4 linked regions of the Homo sapiens genome follow. The protein of the gene in region 1 interacts with the protein of each later gene in a pairwise test. Each region holds a gene or a part of one and is shown in the gene's direction. Other genes may lie near its edges.

Evidence for each region.
Region 2: the proteins of alpha-crystallin A2 chain (region 1) and TSACC interact in binary tests that used the Homo sapiens proteins (3 or more experiments, as listed by UniProt).
Region 3: the proteins of alpha-crystallin A2 chain (region 1) and NOD1 interact in binary tests that used the Homo sapiens proteins (3 or more experiments, as listed by UniProt).
Region 4: the proteins of alpha-crystallin A2 chain (region 1) and UNKL interact in binary tests that used the Homo sapiens proteins (3 or more experiments, as listed by UniProt).

What each region holds. Positions count from the first base shown.
Region 1 is NC_000021.9:6,504,751-6,510,021, forward strand, and holds part of alpha-crystallin A2 chain, read left to right. Parts: intron 1-2,052; exon of another isoform or gene 2,053-2,639; intron 2,640-5,271. UniProt on the Homo sapiens protein: Contributes to the transparency and refractive index of the lens. In its oxidized form (absence of intramolecular disulfide bond), acts as a chaperone, preventing aggregation of various proteins under a wide range of stress conditions.
Region 2 is NC_000001.11:156,344,511-156,347,495, forward strand, and holds the end of TSACC (TSSK6-activating co-chaperone protein), read left to right. Parts: intron 1-69; coding exon 70-198; intron 199-2,257; coding exon 2,258-2,472; 3' UTR 2,473-2,485; downstream 2,486-2,985.
Region 3 is NC_000007.14:30,468,785-30,472,284, reverse strand, and holds part of NOD1 (nucleotide-binding oligomerization domain-containing protein 1), read left to right. Parts: intron 1-3,500. UniProt on the Homo sapiens protein: Pattern recognition receptor (PRR) that detects bacterial peptidoglycan fragments and other danger signals and thus participates in both innate and adaptive immune responses.
Region 4 is NC_000016.10:1,369,705-1,373,204, reverse strand, and holds part of UNKL (putative E3 ubiquitin-protein ligase UNKL), read left to right. Parts: intron 1-1,593; coding exon 1,594-1,686; intron 1,687-2,847; coding exon 2,848-3,075; exon of another isoform or gene 3,076-3,198; coding exon of another isoform or gene 3,199-3,271; intron 3,272-3,500. UniProt on the Homo sapiens protein: May participate in a protein complex showing an E3 ligase activity regulated by RAC1. Ubiquitination is directed towards itself and possibly other substrates, such as SMARCD2/BAF60b. Intrinsic E3 ligase activity has not been proven.

The sequences.
Region 1 (5,271 bases):
TGAGACGGAGTCTTGCTGTGTTGCCCATGCTGGAGTGCAGTGGCATGATCTCGGCTCAGTGCAGCCTCCGCCTTCCAGGTTCCAGCAGTTCTCCTGCCTCAGCCTCCCGAGTAGCTGGGATTATAGGTGCCCACCACCACGCCCAGCTAATTTTTTGTATTTTTAGTACAGACAGGGTTTCACCATGTTGGCCAGGCTGGTCTTGAACTCCTGACCTCAGGTGATCTGCCTGCCTCGGCCTCCCAAAGTGCTGGGATTACAGGTGTGAGCCACCGCGCCTGGCCTTCTTTTTTTTTTTTTTTTTTTTTTGAGATGGAGTTTCGCTCTCGTCACCCAGGCTGGAGTGCAATGGCATGGTCTAAGCTCACTGCAACCTCCACCTCTCAGGTTCAGTCAATTCTTCTGCCTCAGCCTCCCAAGTAGGTGGGATTACAGGTGCTCACCACCACGCCTGGCTAATTTTTGTGTTTTTAGTAGAGATGGGGTTTCACCATGTTGGCCAGGCTGGTCTCGAACTCCTGACGTCAAGTGATCCACCCACCTCAGCTTCCCAAAGTGCTGGGATTACAGGTGTGAGCAGCAAGATTTCTTTTTCTGAGCTGTCTTTAGAGTGGTTCTGACGCTTAGGAAGACTGCTTTGCATTTCTTTGGAGATGCTTGGTTCAGCCTTGGTTAAGTCATGACCTTCGTTATGCCATTACCTTGGTTAAATCTTTGTTTTTGAGATGGAGTCTCGCTGTGTCACCCAAGCTGGAGTGCAGTGGTGCGATCTTGGCTCACTGCAACCTCTGTCTCCTGGGTTGAAGCAATTCTCCTGCCTTAGCCTCCCGAGTAGCTGGGATGACAGGTGCATGCCACCACACCTGGCTAATTTACCTTGGTTAAGTCTCACTGGTTTTGTGAGTAACTTGAAAATGTCCATTTCGTTTTTTTTTTTGAGATGGAGTTTCGCTCTCATTGCCCAGGCTGGAGTGTAAGGGATGGCCTGATCTCGGCTCACTGCAACTTCGGCCTGCCAGGTTCAAGCGGTCCTCCTGCCTCAGCCTCCCAAGTAGCTGGGATTACATGCATGCACCACCACACCTGGCTAATTTTGTATTTTTAGTAGAGACAAAGTTTCACCATGTTGGCCAGGCTGGTCTTGAACTCCTGATCTCAGGTGATCCACCCACCTTGGCCTCCCAAAGTGCTGGGATTACAGACATGAGCCACCGCACCCGGCCAAGTTTTTTCTTTTTTTATATGTAATAAGTTGGATAAAGTGTTTATAAAAAGTTAAAAGTAGGCCCTCAAGCAGGTAAAGTAGGCTTGCTTCTTTTCAGAGCTATCCATGCTGATTCCAGGCATAGAGAATGCCTCCTTTGCCCTATTCATTAAAGGGCTTCACCCTGAAGTCAGTAATCTAATAGAGAAACAAGCTAAGTTGAAAAGACCCTGTGATGGTTAATATTAGCTGTCAACCTGATTGGATTGAAGGATGGTAAAGTATTGTTCTTGGGTGTGTTGTGAGGGTGTTGCCAGAGGAAATTGACATTGGAGTCAGTGGACTGAGAGAGGAAGACCCACCCTCAGTGTGGGTGGGCACCATCCGATTGGCTGACAGTGTGGCTGGAACAAAGCAGGTGGAGGAGGGTGGGAGAAGCTGGCTTGCTGAGTCTTCTGGCTTTTGTAGCCACCCAGTGAGTTCACCTAGCCGGCTGCCTAGATGGAGCGGATTTATCAGGACAGGGGAATTGCAATGCAGAACGAGTAATTTACACAGAGCTAGCTGTGCGGGCGACTGGAGTTTTATTATTACTCAAATTAGACATCCCAAGAATTTGCAGATCAGAGTTTTTAAAGATAATTTGGCGGCTCAGGAAGTAGGAGTGCTGATTGATCTGGCTGGAGATGGAATCACAGGGAGGTCAAAGTGAGGTTTCCTTGCTGTCTTCTGTTCCTGGGTACAATGGCAGAACTGGCTGAGCCAGATAGCCGGTCTGTGTGGTATCAGCTGATCCATAGAGTACAGGGTCTTGCAGAATAAATACCTCAAGCACTGATCTTCGGATTACAATGGTGATGTTATCCCCAGGAGCAATTTCGGGAGGTTTGGACAGCCAGAGGCTGGATGACCTTTAAATCAAAATTTCTTTTTTTTTTTTTCAAAGAAGCCCCATTTTATTACAGAGAGCATACAAAGCCGTTTCCTCATAAGGAAAAGTACAGCTTCCCTTCTCCAGGGTGACAGATGAGCCTTTTCTGAAGTTCTCAGCTTTCTCTTCTATCGATATTTCCCATGTCAGTTAAAGTGTTTGTAGAGACAGCTGATGCGTTTATTGAGGTTGTGCAGCTCATCAGCAAACATTCTGTTTCCAACCATTTTCTTCTTTAGCATACAGCGTTGCAATTCATTCCCCTTCCAATCTCGAAGCCATATGGGGTCCCTGATCAGCTTTTGGGGTGCTTTTCAAAGTTTCCCAGGATCCTGATGTTGTCATACACTCTGAACATGGCCATCCTTTCGTTCCAAGGATCAACTACTTTGGGGGGTAGGAGCCTTATACCAATCAATCTAGGAATACCAAGAAAGAAGCTTCTGCATGCCACACCTAGTCCCACAGGCGCCTACCTGCCCTACATAAGAGGCTCCCTGCCATTTCTCTAGTCTGCCCCTTCAACAGCACACCAAATAAGCCCAAGAATGAGGACCAGATGTGGCCTTCAAGAAGACAACAGGAACCGTCCCTGTCGACTTCACACGGGTACTAACGTGAAGGCAGCCACCTTGGGCCTTAAAATTTCTAATCTTGTAGCTAATTTGTTACTCCTACAAAGGCAGACTGGTTCCTAGGCAAGAAGGGGATCTTTCTGGGAAATGGCTATTATCAATTTTGTTTCAGAGTCAAACTATAAGCTAAATTCCTTCCCAAGGTTAGTTGGCCTGTGCCCAGGCATGAACAAAGACAGCCTAAAGGTTAGAAGCAAGATGGAGTCAGGTAGGTCTGATCTCTTTCACTGTCATCATTTCCTCAGTTGTAATTTTTGCAGAGGCAGTTTCACTTTCATCTTTCTCCTGTGCTGGATGCCTCCTCCGTTCCCCCTGCCCTTGGACATCAGACTCCAGGTTCTTTGGCCTTTGGACTCTTGGACTTAAGCCAGTGGTTTGCTTGGGACTCTCGGGCCTTCAGCCACAGATTGAAGCCTGCACTGTTGGCTTCCCTACTTTTGAGGCTTTTGGACTCCGACTGAGCCACTCCTGGCTTCCTTCTTCTGCAGCTTGCAGACGGTGTATCATGGGACTTCACCCTGTGATGGTGTGAACTAGTTCTCCCTAATATACTCCCTTTCATATATATGTCTATTCTGTTAGTTCTGCCCCTCTGGAGAACCCTAACTAATGCAGACCCTTGTGTAACTTTGATATCCAAAATATGGCTTTCTAGCATTTAGCTGGCTATTTTGAAACTCTTTGTAAAAAAAATTTATATATATGAAGGAAATCTCCATTTGTAAGGGTGTCTCCCTCCCTGCACCCAAACTGCTAGAAACTGAAGATGGGGAAGACATTGGCTGAAGACACTGTCTTACAGTTTACATCACAGACCTTGCCTTCGGTGGAAATACTTTTCCTGGCAACCTCGTCTTCACTAGGTGTAGGGACCAGCCCCACAGGATCGGTGGGTTTTTCTCCCCATGTGCAGAGACGAGAGATTGTAGAAATAAAGACACAAGACAAAGAGATAAAAGGAAAGACAGGTGGGCCTGGGGGACCACTAACACCAAGATGCGGAGACCGGTAATGGCCCCGAATGTCTGGCTGCGTTGTTATTTATTGGATACAAAGCAAAAGGGGCAGGGTAAAGAGTGTGAGTCATCTCCAATGATAGGTAGGGTCACGTGGGTCACGTGTCCACTGGACAGGGGGCCCTTCCCTGCCTGGCAGCCAAGGCAGAGAGGGGGAGAGAGAGAGACAGCTTGCGCCATTATTTCTGCATATCAGAGACTTTTAGTACTTTCACTAATTTGCTACTGCTATCTAGAAGGCAGAGCCAGGTGTACAGGATGGAACACGAAGGCGGACTAGGAGTGTGACCACTGAAGCACAGCGTCACAGGGAGATGGTATGCCTTCGGATAACTGAAGGTGGGCCTGAGGCCCTCCACAAGAGATGGAGGAGTAGAGTCTTCTCTGAACTCCCGTGGGGAAAGGGAGACTCCCTTTCCCGGTCTGCTAAGTAGCCGGTGTTTTTCCTTGACACTGACGCTACTGCTAGACCATGGTCCGCTTGACAACAGGCGTCTTCCCAGACGCTGGCGTTACCGCTAGACCAAGGAGCCCTCTGGTGGCCCTGTCCGGGCATAACAGAAGGCTCGCATGCTTGTCTTCTGGTCACTTCTCACTATGTCCCCTCAGCTCCTGTGTCTGTATGGCCTGGTTTTTCCTAGGTTATGATTGTAGAGCGAGGATTATTGTAATATTGGAATAAAGAGTAATTGCTACAAACTAATGATTAATGATTTTCATATATAATCATGTCTATGATCTAGATCTAGTATAACTCTTGTTGTTTTATATATTTTATTATACTGGAAAAGCTCGTGCCCTCGGTCTCTTGCCTCGGCACGTAGGTGGTTTGCCGCCCACAACTAGGCTTTTACCTACACCCTTCTTCCTTGGTTTGAATTCAGCTCTGTGCTTTTGAGATGTGAATTTTTTCTACTTTGTTTCACCTCAGTCATCCCTTTAGAAGTGCCAATTTAGTGTTGCCTAGCTAACAGTTGCTTAGGGATCATGTAAAAGGGGGAAATAAAAACTATTTGAGAGCATAATCAGGTTAAGTATTAATGCTAAAACTTACTTTACAAGTTAGTTGGTCTTGCTAAGATTTCTCTTTGGTAGAAATGGGGAATTGGAGAGAAGATTCTTTATAAAAACTATAAGATCTGCTTCTGTCTGTATGTCTATATGTTTATATGTGTCATGTGTATGTGATATTTCACTACCAAAATATATGAAAAAGCTATAATTAATTGGCTTAAAGAAGGGACTGCTTGGCTGGGTGCAGTGGCTCACACCTGTAATCCCAGCACTTTGGGAGGCGAAGGTGGGTGGATCATGAGGTCAGGAGATCGAGATCATCCTGGCTAACATGGCGAAACCCCATCTCTACTAAAAATACAAAGAAAAATTAGCCAGGCGTGGTGGCAGGCGCCTGTAGTCCCAGCTACTCAGGAGACTGAGGCAGGAGAATGGCATGAACCTGGGAGGCGGAGCTTGCAGTGAGCCAAG
Region 2 (2,985 bases), on another chromosome or scaffold:
GTGCAGGGATCTAATTAGAAAGGCTGTCCCTTGTTGGAATGAGCTCTGATTTAGTTATCTCTGATTTAGTTCCAGCCAAAGAGGAAGCTAATGCTGTGCCTCTCTGTAGAGCAAAACCCTCCCCCAGCTATATTAATCTTCAAGCAAGTTCCCCACCAGCCACTTTTCTGAACATCCAGACAACAAAGCTGCCCTCGGGTAAGGATGTAGGGAGGGTTTTCTAATGGACTCAACAGGGGGAAGGGTTGCATGGAGGAGGTGGCTTGAGCTGTCGCCTATTGATCAAGAGCCAAATCTATGTTAGGCATCTATAGATCTTTCCGTGATAGCTTGTTGATTATTTAGTTTCATTGATATCATTATCATCCCAGTTCTACCAACTTGTATTGTTTCCTTGCTTGTTAGCACTTTTGCTAGACTAGGCAGGAGTGAAGTGAACCTCTCATTGCTTACTGGTAATGTTAGTTAAAAGATGGCCAGGTTTACCCCTGTTCACTTGGGAAGGTAAAATTTTAAAAAACGGTGGCTAGAGAAGGAAACTATTAGCTCAGTCTCAGGGTCTTTGAATTTTCATCATTCATCTTCCCTTGGGGAGGTCAGTGGGTATTTGGCATAGCTATGGGGAACCCAACAGGGCACTAACTAGACAGTCATAACCCCTGTTTTTGAGGACCTCAGAGTCCAACAAAGAAGTCAAGACTGATAAAAATACAAACAGCAGATAATATAATTACCAAGGTTAACTGGCTGTGTAAAATATTAGAAAAAGTGGCTGGGCACGGTAGCTCATCCCTGTAATCCCAGCACTTTGGGAGGCCAAGGCAGGTGGATTGTCTGAGGTCAGGAGCTTCAGACCAGCCTGACCGACATGGTGAAACCCTGTCTCTACTAAAAATACAAAAATAAGCTGGGCGTGGTGGCAGGTGCCTGTAATCTCAGCTGCTTAGGAGGCCGAGGCAGGAGAATTGCTTGAACCTGGGAGGCGGAGGTTGCAGTGAGCCAAGACTGGGCCATTGCACTCCAGCCTGGGCAACAAGAGTGAAACTCCATCTCAAAACAAACAAAAGAATGGACTGGCAGGGCTCGGTGGCTCATGCCTGTAATCCCAGCACTTTGGGAGGCCAAAGCGGGCGGATTACCTGAGGTCAGGAGTTTGAGACCAGCCTCACCAACATGGTGAAACCCCATCTCTACTAAAAATACAAAAATTAGCTGGGCATGGTGGCACCTGCCTGTAATCCCAGCTACTTGGGAGACTGAGGCAGGAGAATTGCTTAAACTGGGAGGTGGAGGTTGCAGTGAGCCAGGATTGTGCCGCTGCACTGCATCCTGGGAGACAGAGCAAGGCTCCATTGAAAAAAAAAAAAAGAAAAAAGAAAAATATTAGAAAAAGAATGGACTGGCCAGGTGCAGTGGCTCACACTTGTAATACCAGCACTTTGGAAGGCCAAGGCAGGTGGATCACCTGAGGTCAGGAGTTCGAGACCAGCCTGGGCAACGTGGTGAAACCTCGTCTCTACTAATGATACAAAACTTAGCCAGGCATGGTGGCACATGACTGTAATCCCAGCTACTCAGGAAGTTGAGGCAGGAGAATTGCTTGAACCCAGGAGGTGGAGGTTGCAGTGAGCTGAGATCGTACCATTGTACTCTAGCCTGGGTGACAAGTGAAACTCCGTCTCCAAAAAAAAAAAAAAAAAAGAAAAAGAAAAAAAACAATGGACCAATGTAGCAAGAATGGTTGAAGTTAGGGAACTTCAGGTCACTGCTAATGATACACTATGTCAAGTAACAGAGGAGGCTGAGGTATCCCCTGAGCTCTAGGGAAGGTAGGCCTCCCTCCCAGACCATTTCATTCACTCATCAAATATTTGTTATATGCTGGGCATTTTTCTAGGTGCTAGGGTTAAAGTAGTGAACAAATCAGATAAAAATCCTTGCCTTCCTGGAGCTTACGTTCTAGAAGGGGGACTTAGACAAAAATTAAGTAATTATAAAATATGCCATATGACCATAAATATTATGGGAAAAGTGAAACAAGGGAGGGGGTAATAAGTTCCAGTGATTGATTTCAAATTAAAATAGGATAGCCAGGTATGCCTCACTGGGAGGTGACAGCTGGGCAAAGGTATGTCTGGGTTGGGTTGTGCCTGGAAAGATTGGAGAGGTCATTTTATTAGGGTCCTTCCAACCTCAGTACAATTACCAAATCTCTCTCCTTTGTTCCCTTGCACCTCCGTTGCTTTTCCTTCTGGAGTTGATCACAAGCCCAAGGAATGCCTAGGACTCCTGGAATGTATGTATGCAAACCTCCAGCTTCAGACCCAGCTCGCCCAACAACAGATGGCTGTTTTGGAACATTTACAGGCATCTGTGACACAACTGGCTCCTGGGAGGGGAAGCAATAACTCTTCTCTCCCAGCCTTATCTCCTAATCCATTGTTAAATCACCTGCCCCAATTCAGTAAATGAATTGTGGAACAAAGTTATTGTGTTGTTTTCCTCTCTCTTCCCAGTAAACCCTTGTTGGAATCTGGGTATATGTATTCTACATATGGTTAGTTTGTTCACAGGTTCATAATAAGTGCTCACTGAGTGCAAAGCGTTGTACAAGGCACTTGGGGTTACATATTACAAAAGGAGTTTGCAGGGATTACTGTCTAACAAAGCAGACAATTCATTGCAAAATGTAGTGGTATTCTGAAAGAGGATGGAGGTTAAGAACTAACACTGGAGGTTACTAGGATACAACTGGACCAATTTTAGAATCTTGCTGGAGAAAGTGGCTTCATGATGCCACTTGAAGAAGGGAGGGGTTGGATGGCATGGACAGATGAAGTCAGGTAGTTCCATATCAGTTGGGAAGCTTGGACAAAGACCTAGAGGTAGACGTATTAGTCCATTCTTGCATTGCTATAAAGAAATACCTAAAGTTGGGTGATTTGTAGAGAAAATATGTTTATTTTGGCTCATGGTTTGGTTCTG
Region 3 (3,500 bases), on another chromosome or scaffold:
CTGGTGTGGTAAGGCCCAAGCCCAGGAGGGTACAGAGCTAAATAATGAGACACACTCAGGCCAAGTAGGGCCTCCTGGGCTGGGTAAGGATTTGGGATTTTATTCTGAAGTGCGGAGGGAAGCTTTGGAGGAATTTCCCCTCCTGACTTTTTCCTGTCATTCATAATATACAAGAAAAAGATCATTAGTCACTTCTATTTATTCAGATAATGAACAATCTCTACTTCTTAAGCTATATAAACCTTGTCTTAGTGTGTGAAACAATTCTGGAGTGTCTAGTTTTCAATCTCCAGATGAGGGAACTGAGGCTCAAAACAAAGTGAAAGAAGGCAGAGGCAGGATTTGGAACCAGGCCTGCCCAGCCCACGGCACATGCTCTGTAGTTTTCTGGGACAGATGAGTGTAAATGCATATGGGCCTCCTAGGCACCCGGCATCCTTCATCAGGAGCTTCAGTGGATGGACTAGGGTGGAGTCCAGTCCTTCCTGGCTCTTTAGAAACAGGAACAAAAGACCCCGAAGAGTGGAGGGAGGTTGGGCATGTACAGGTCAGGGGGTCAGAATCTGTAGGCACCAAATGTCAGGGCCCCCTGGCTATGGGAAGGGCTGTCAGTTTTTCACGCTAGTCTGTTCTGCTCCGCCTAGCTGTTGCCCAGAAATCCCAAAGAGGGTGCCTTCCCAGCTCTGTTCACCTTTGAAAATCTGAATTCATCATTTGTGTGCACTTGAGAGACCCAGGGTTTGGTAAAAACAAAATTCTTTATTGGGTGTTTTCAGGTCACAGGAAAAGCCTCCACTGTGTGGGACCCACATCCTTAGCACTGCATGCTGGCTGCTTCCAGGCATCTGCACTGACCCTGTTTCTCCTTCCTTGCTGTGAAGCGGTCATGAGGTTGCAGTGCCAGATGTGTTGCAGGCCAGGTGTATCTCGGCTGGTTGGGCAGGCCTTCTGCTTAACATGGGACCTCACTTAGTGAGGGAAGAGAGCAGTCCTGGCCCAAGGGGTGCAGTGTCTGGGGCAGATGCTTTAGGGGTTATGGCTCTATCATCTTCTCAACCTCTTAATGCCACTCAGGGTCACCACACATAAATCCCTGGGTACTCTCCCACTTAGCTCTGTGACAGGTTTGTGTCCTAGATGCTTGCTGACTCTGTATACATGTTCAATGGGGTTAATAAACGTCTTCAGCTAAGCATTTTGGCCAGCGATCAGCAGAGTGTTTATTTGCTGTGGGCCCGGTTTCAACTCCCACTTTGGTGGTGACTAATATATTTTGTTCTTGTGGAGTGCTTTTCACTTGATAAGCCCCAGACACTTTCTGTGTCAGTCCTAAATGCCATATCCAGATGTCCTCCAGCTTCCAGATCGGCCACTTCTGTGGCACTTTCCTCTGCATAAACACTTCAGCCCTCTCGCAGAGTGGAGTTCCAGGAAACCGGTTTCCACTTCAAGGCTCTGTTGTTTTCTGCTGGCTTTCTTCATTAAGATATTTTTATTCACTGGCCCCTCAGAGATGAATATCAAGTGCAGTGTTTTGGGAACTTTGTTTTTCAAAGCCTGGATAAAACCAAGAAAATGTCAAGCAGTAGGTGATTAAGTACCAAGTGGTCGCACAGGCAATGCTTTTGACATTGACAGCTGGGCTCTGGTTAACCTTTTAAAGACAGCAGCGAAGATAAATGCCTTAGAGCAACAGAAACTATTGGTGATGGAAAGTTGAATTTATTCACCAATAAACTTGGTAAGTGACATTCCCTAAGTGAGCCTGTGAATTATGGAAATCCACGTATCAGTGGACATGATGAAGCACCTGCTATACGCAGTGCACCCGGCCAGATTCATTCATTCGACGGTTCCTATCGAGCACCCTCTATGTGCTGGAGATACGGTGACTCACCAGATGGTCGCCCTCCCTTGTCATCAGTGCTGGCCTTGAAGATGACAGATGGAAATGCTGGCCTAGGCTGCCCTCTTGTAGGTCACGGCCGGTGCTTACTATGTGACCAGTGCTGTTCTAAATACCGTATGTACGTGTATTAACTCACTGCATGCTCACAGAGATCCCTACATGGAGTAGGTGCAGTTATTATCTGTACTTACAGAGAAGAAAACAGAAGCACAGAAGAGAGCATTATTTGTCCAAGTCACATAGCTGGTGATTGGAACCAGATAGCCTGGCTTTAGAGTCTGTGTCCTTCACTGCCACTACCAACCAATGTGAAAGGAAAATAATCAACTTAGGACACAAAGTTGCACGCCCTCTGAGAGAGGCGGGGATAGAATACCATGGGCCTTCCCAGCAGGGAGAGATGGGCTTAGGGGAGAAACAGAGTAAGGTGGGAACCCTACCCTTTTCCCATTCTGACAGGTGACATCCCCGCTGGGGGGATGGAGGAAATGTTTGGCTACTGAGGAGGCTACTCTGGCCAGAAGTAGACAAAAGAAGCAACTGTCTCGCAGCCAGGAGACTTGGATGCTAGTTTTGATTGATCCGGACAAGTCCAGGGCCCTGCCCAGGGCCTCTGTTTTCCCATCTCTAAAATAGGTGGCTTGGACAACATTCTGTTTGACCTCAGGAGCCCAGGATTTCAGCAGAGAAGGGAGGAGCTGGCTCTCTGTGCACTCTGAACAGGGTTTCCTGACCAGAAGAAGATGTTTGGCTCTGAGAGATGTGGGGGCAGGCATTGGACTTCCCAGAAGGCCTTGGCAGCTGTGAAAGGATGTATGCGTTCCACTGTGGTCCCACCCCGAATGCTGACGTTGGCTGTGTCTGCATTCCTTTCTTTGTAGGCAGGATGGCAGTGTCTGTGTGTCTGGAGCTCACACTATAAGGTACTTTGTATGAGAGACAGAGGGAGCTAGAGGGAGGGAAGAGGGAGTAGGGAGGGGAAGGAAGCCGGGAGAGAGAGAGGTGATTCCGGGAGGGACTGACTTCCATCTGCTTTCAAATTCTGAGGGATTAAGTGCTTTCAGATACTTAAAGTCAGTGAGTGTCAATGGAGTTAAAAAGCTTCCAATAATAATTGTAGCTTCATCCATCTGCTAAATTGTCTCCAGAGTCGGCTGCCTATAGTGTTCTGGCATGGCAGAGGCCCACATGACCGGGCTTGTTTTCCAGGTTAAGTTCCTTAAGAAATTGTAAACCAAGCAAGAAAAACAAACAGACAACAACAGAACACAGATTGTTGTGGATCATGCAGCAGGAAAAGTAGGACACCATTTGAGCTGACCAAGCATATGTGTTCTCCGTGCAGCTCTGTCGAAGCTGTGTAAGGTGTGCTTGGTGCTGGCTCCTGCCAGATGCTGTTGGCATGGCTTCATCCACCCAGCTTGCTGTTGGGTAACTTGCAGAGTGAAGAAGTCTGTTGTTCACGTCATCACCACAACCCTGAACATCCAAGCAGTTCATGTCAACAACTAGAGTATAATTATCTTCTTTACTTGTAAAACTGTGGAGCCTGTGGATTAAATTCACCAAAATGAATCATATTCAAGAGAAG
Region 4 (3,500 bases), on another chromosome or scaffold:
TGCTGCTGAGGTCTCTGTGCGGTGTTGGCCGGCAGTCCCTGTGCGGTGTGTTCCATGCTGCTGAGGTCTCTGTGCGGTGTTGGCCGGCAGTCCCTGTGTGGTGTGTTCCATGCTGCTGAGGTCTCTGTGCGGTGTAGGCCGGCAGTCCCTGTGTGGTGTGCTCCACGCTGCTGAGGTCTCTGCGGTGTTGGCCGGCAGTCCCTGTGTGGTGTGCCCCACGCTGCTGAGGTCTCTGTGCGGTGTTGGCCGGCAGTCCCTGTGTGGTGTGCCCCACGCTGCTGAGGTCTCTGTGCGGTGTTGGCCGGCAGTCCCTGTGTGGTGTGCTCCACGCTGCTGAGGTCTCTGTGCAGTGTAGGCCGGCAGTCCCTGTGCGGTGTGCCCCACGCTGCTGAGGTCTCTGTGCGGTGTTGGCCACAACACTGGGCTGGGCTGGGGAGGCGGCGCCGGCCCACAGGGTGTATCCCAGAGCTCCTGCAGCCGCTGCGGTCCTCTGGTCTGCCCCAGGTGGCACGTGGGCTCTCAGATCCCAGATCCTCTGGTCACCCCTCACCCCCAACCCAACTTCTGTGCAGTGGCTGCGGGAGTTTGAGACACGCTGTGGCTTCAGGGGCTGGTGGCCTGAGCTCAGCCTCCTCATGATGGCTTCCTAATTCTAGGAAGGGGCAGTGGGGTCCCTGCTTGCCATTCGGGGTTGGGGGTGGGGACTTGGGAGGGAAGGGCCCGTGCAGGAGGGCAGCCCCACGGCCTGCAGGGATGTGTGGGGACAGCCTTGGAAGGCAGGGCTGGCTGGGTGAGGCCACTCTGAGGCGGGTCCTTCCCACTCAGTCTTGAGCCTTGGGAATTGAGGTCTTGGTGCTTGGCATGAAATTGCACGTGAACACCTGCTCCTTGAAATCACCCTCACAGAAAGTTTTTTTTTTGTTTTTGTTTTTGTTTTTTTTGAGATGGAATCTTGCTCTGTCGTCCAGGCTGGAGGGCAGTGGCACGATCTCGGCTCACTGCAAGCTCCGCCTCTGGGGTTCACACCATTCTTCCGCCTCAGCCTCCCGAGTAGCTGGGACTACAGGCACCCGCCACCACGCCTGGCTAATTTTTTGTATTTTTTTTTTTTTGGTTGAGACGGGGTTTCACCGTGTTAGCCAGGATGGTCTCGATCTCCTGACCTTGTGATCTGCCCACCTCGGCCTCCCAAAGTGCTGGGATTACAGGTGTGAGCCACCGCACCCGGCCCTGGAAAGTTTTTTAAACAGTCGAATGTGCACACGTGGACAGATGCTAACACACACTTAGGTATTTAAACTCTGAGGGGCAGCAGCAGCGTGTCAGAGGCGAGGACCCAGCTGCTGGTCTGTGGTGCGGGGCGTCCCACCTGAGCACGCTCGTTTTGCCGGAGGAACAGCCAAGCCTCACACTGCCTGTGGGGGGCTGCGAGGACGGGCTGGGGGTGTCCTTCCCTGGCTGCCCCAGCAACTCCCACGCCTTCTGCCCTTGGTCTCACTCTAAGCCCAGGTGGGACGGTCGTCCTCCTCAGCTAGGCTTCCTGAGCTCTGCAGCGCTGGGTGGGCTGTGGATGATGGGGGGCTCTGTTGACAGGTTCTGCGTTAGACCTGCATCTTAGCAATGTGAATATTGCATCCCTAGAGAAGGACCTGGAAGAGCAAGACGGCCACGACCTGGGAGCAGCAGGTGAGGGTGGGGAGGACCTGGGGCCCTGCTCCTCCAGCCGCTGAACAGCCAAGTGCTGTGGCCGGAGGATCGCTTGAGCCCGGGGAGGTCAAGGCTGCAGTGAGCTGAGGTTGCACCACTGCACTCCTGCCTGGACCACAGGGCAAGACCCGGTGTCTGGTTTTCGGAGCGGGAGGATCCCCTTCTGGCGGTACCTCCTCCTCCTCTCCCTGACTGCCTCTCCCTTTCCCTCCCCTGCACATGGACTCCTCAGCATCTCTCCTGCCTCGGGCCTGCCCACTTCTTCAGTTGACCTTTGTCCCAGCAAAGTGGCCGCGCAGAGACAGGCGGGGCCTTTCCTGAAAGTCTTGATGGTCCCCGAAGGATAAATGTATTCACATTGTAGACAAAAGATTGACATCCATACAAATGTATCTTTTTTTTTTTTTTTTTTTTTGAGACAGAGCCTCGCTCTGTCGCCCAGGCTGGAGTGCAGTGGCGCGATCTCCGCTCACTGCAAGCTCCACCTCCCGGGTTCACGCCATTCTCCTGCCTCAGCCTCCGGAGTAGCTGGGACTACAGGTGCCCGCCACCACGCCCAGCTAATTTTTTGTATTTTTAATAGAGACGGGGTTTCACCATGTTAGCCAGGATGGTCTCCATCTCCTGACCCCGTGATCTGCCCGCCTTGGCCTCCCAAAGTGCTGGGATTACAGGCGTGAGCCAGTGCGCCCGGCCCCATACAAATGTATCTTAACATCGTATACAACATCTTTTCATTCAGCCTAAAAGTGTATCTTTTCTTTCTTTTAAAAGAAAGTAAACCATTTCAGGGGGCCTGGACAAGTGCTGGGAGGACCGTGCCAATGGCTTAGTTGGCCGGCAGGGCCTGGTGGGTGTCCGGCCTCTTTGGGGGGGGCCCATGTTAAACCCCCGTCTCCCCACCTCTGGTTGGAATCCCTTTGAGCCCATGGCTTGCCCAGCTGTGTTGGACATGGCCACCGGGGGCGCTGTGGCTCCAAACACATAGATGGTGGTGGCTGGCCTGGCCCCTATATTCCCACCCCCCATATCCCCACCACCACCACCTGCAGGGTCCGTCTTCCACGGCTGCCGCCCATGGCAGATGTTTGGGCAGAGGCCTGGCGGTACTCCCTTCGCTGACTGGTCCGCCCCCGCCAGGTCCCAGGTCGCTGGCCGGCTCTGCACCTGTCGCCATCCCCGGCTCCCTGCCCAGAGCACCATCGCTACACTCGCCATCCTCTGCGTCCACCTCGCCGCTCGGTTCGCTGTCCCAGCCCCTCCCAGGGCCGGTGGGCTCCTCAGCCATGACGCCTCCCCAGCAGCCGCCACCCCTGCGTTCAGAGCCGGGCACACTGGGCTCTGCAGCCTCATCCTACAGCCCCCTAGGTGAGTGCCGGCTCCCTCCATGCTGGCGTTGCCGTGAAGCCTCCGTGGGGCTCCCTCCCAGATGCCGTCCTGACTGAGGGGCCTCACACGGAACCTTGTGCCCTATCTGTGGTGGCAAACCACATGACCTGCTGCTCACAGGTTCCCCCACGCCGCAGACCGAGTCTCGCTCTGTCGCCCAGGTTGGACTGCAATGGTACGATCTCGGCTCGCCGCAACCTCCGCCTCCCAGGTTCAAGCAATTCTCCTGCCTCAGCCACCCAAGTAGCTGGGACTACAGGCGGGCGCCACCACGCCCAGCTAGTTTTTGTATTTTTAGTAGAGATGGCGTTTCATCACGCTGGCCGGGCCGGTCTCAAACTCCTGACCTCGTGATCTGCCTGCCTTGGCTTCCCAAAGTGTGGGATGACAGTGAGCCACCGTGC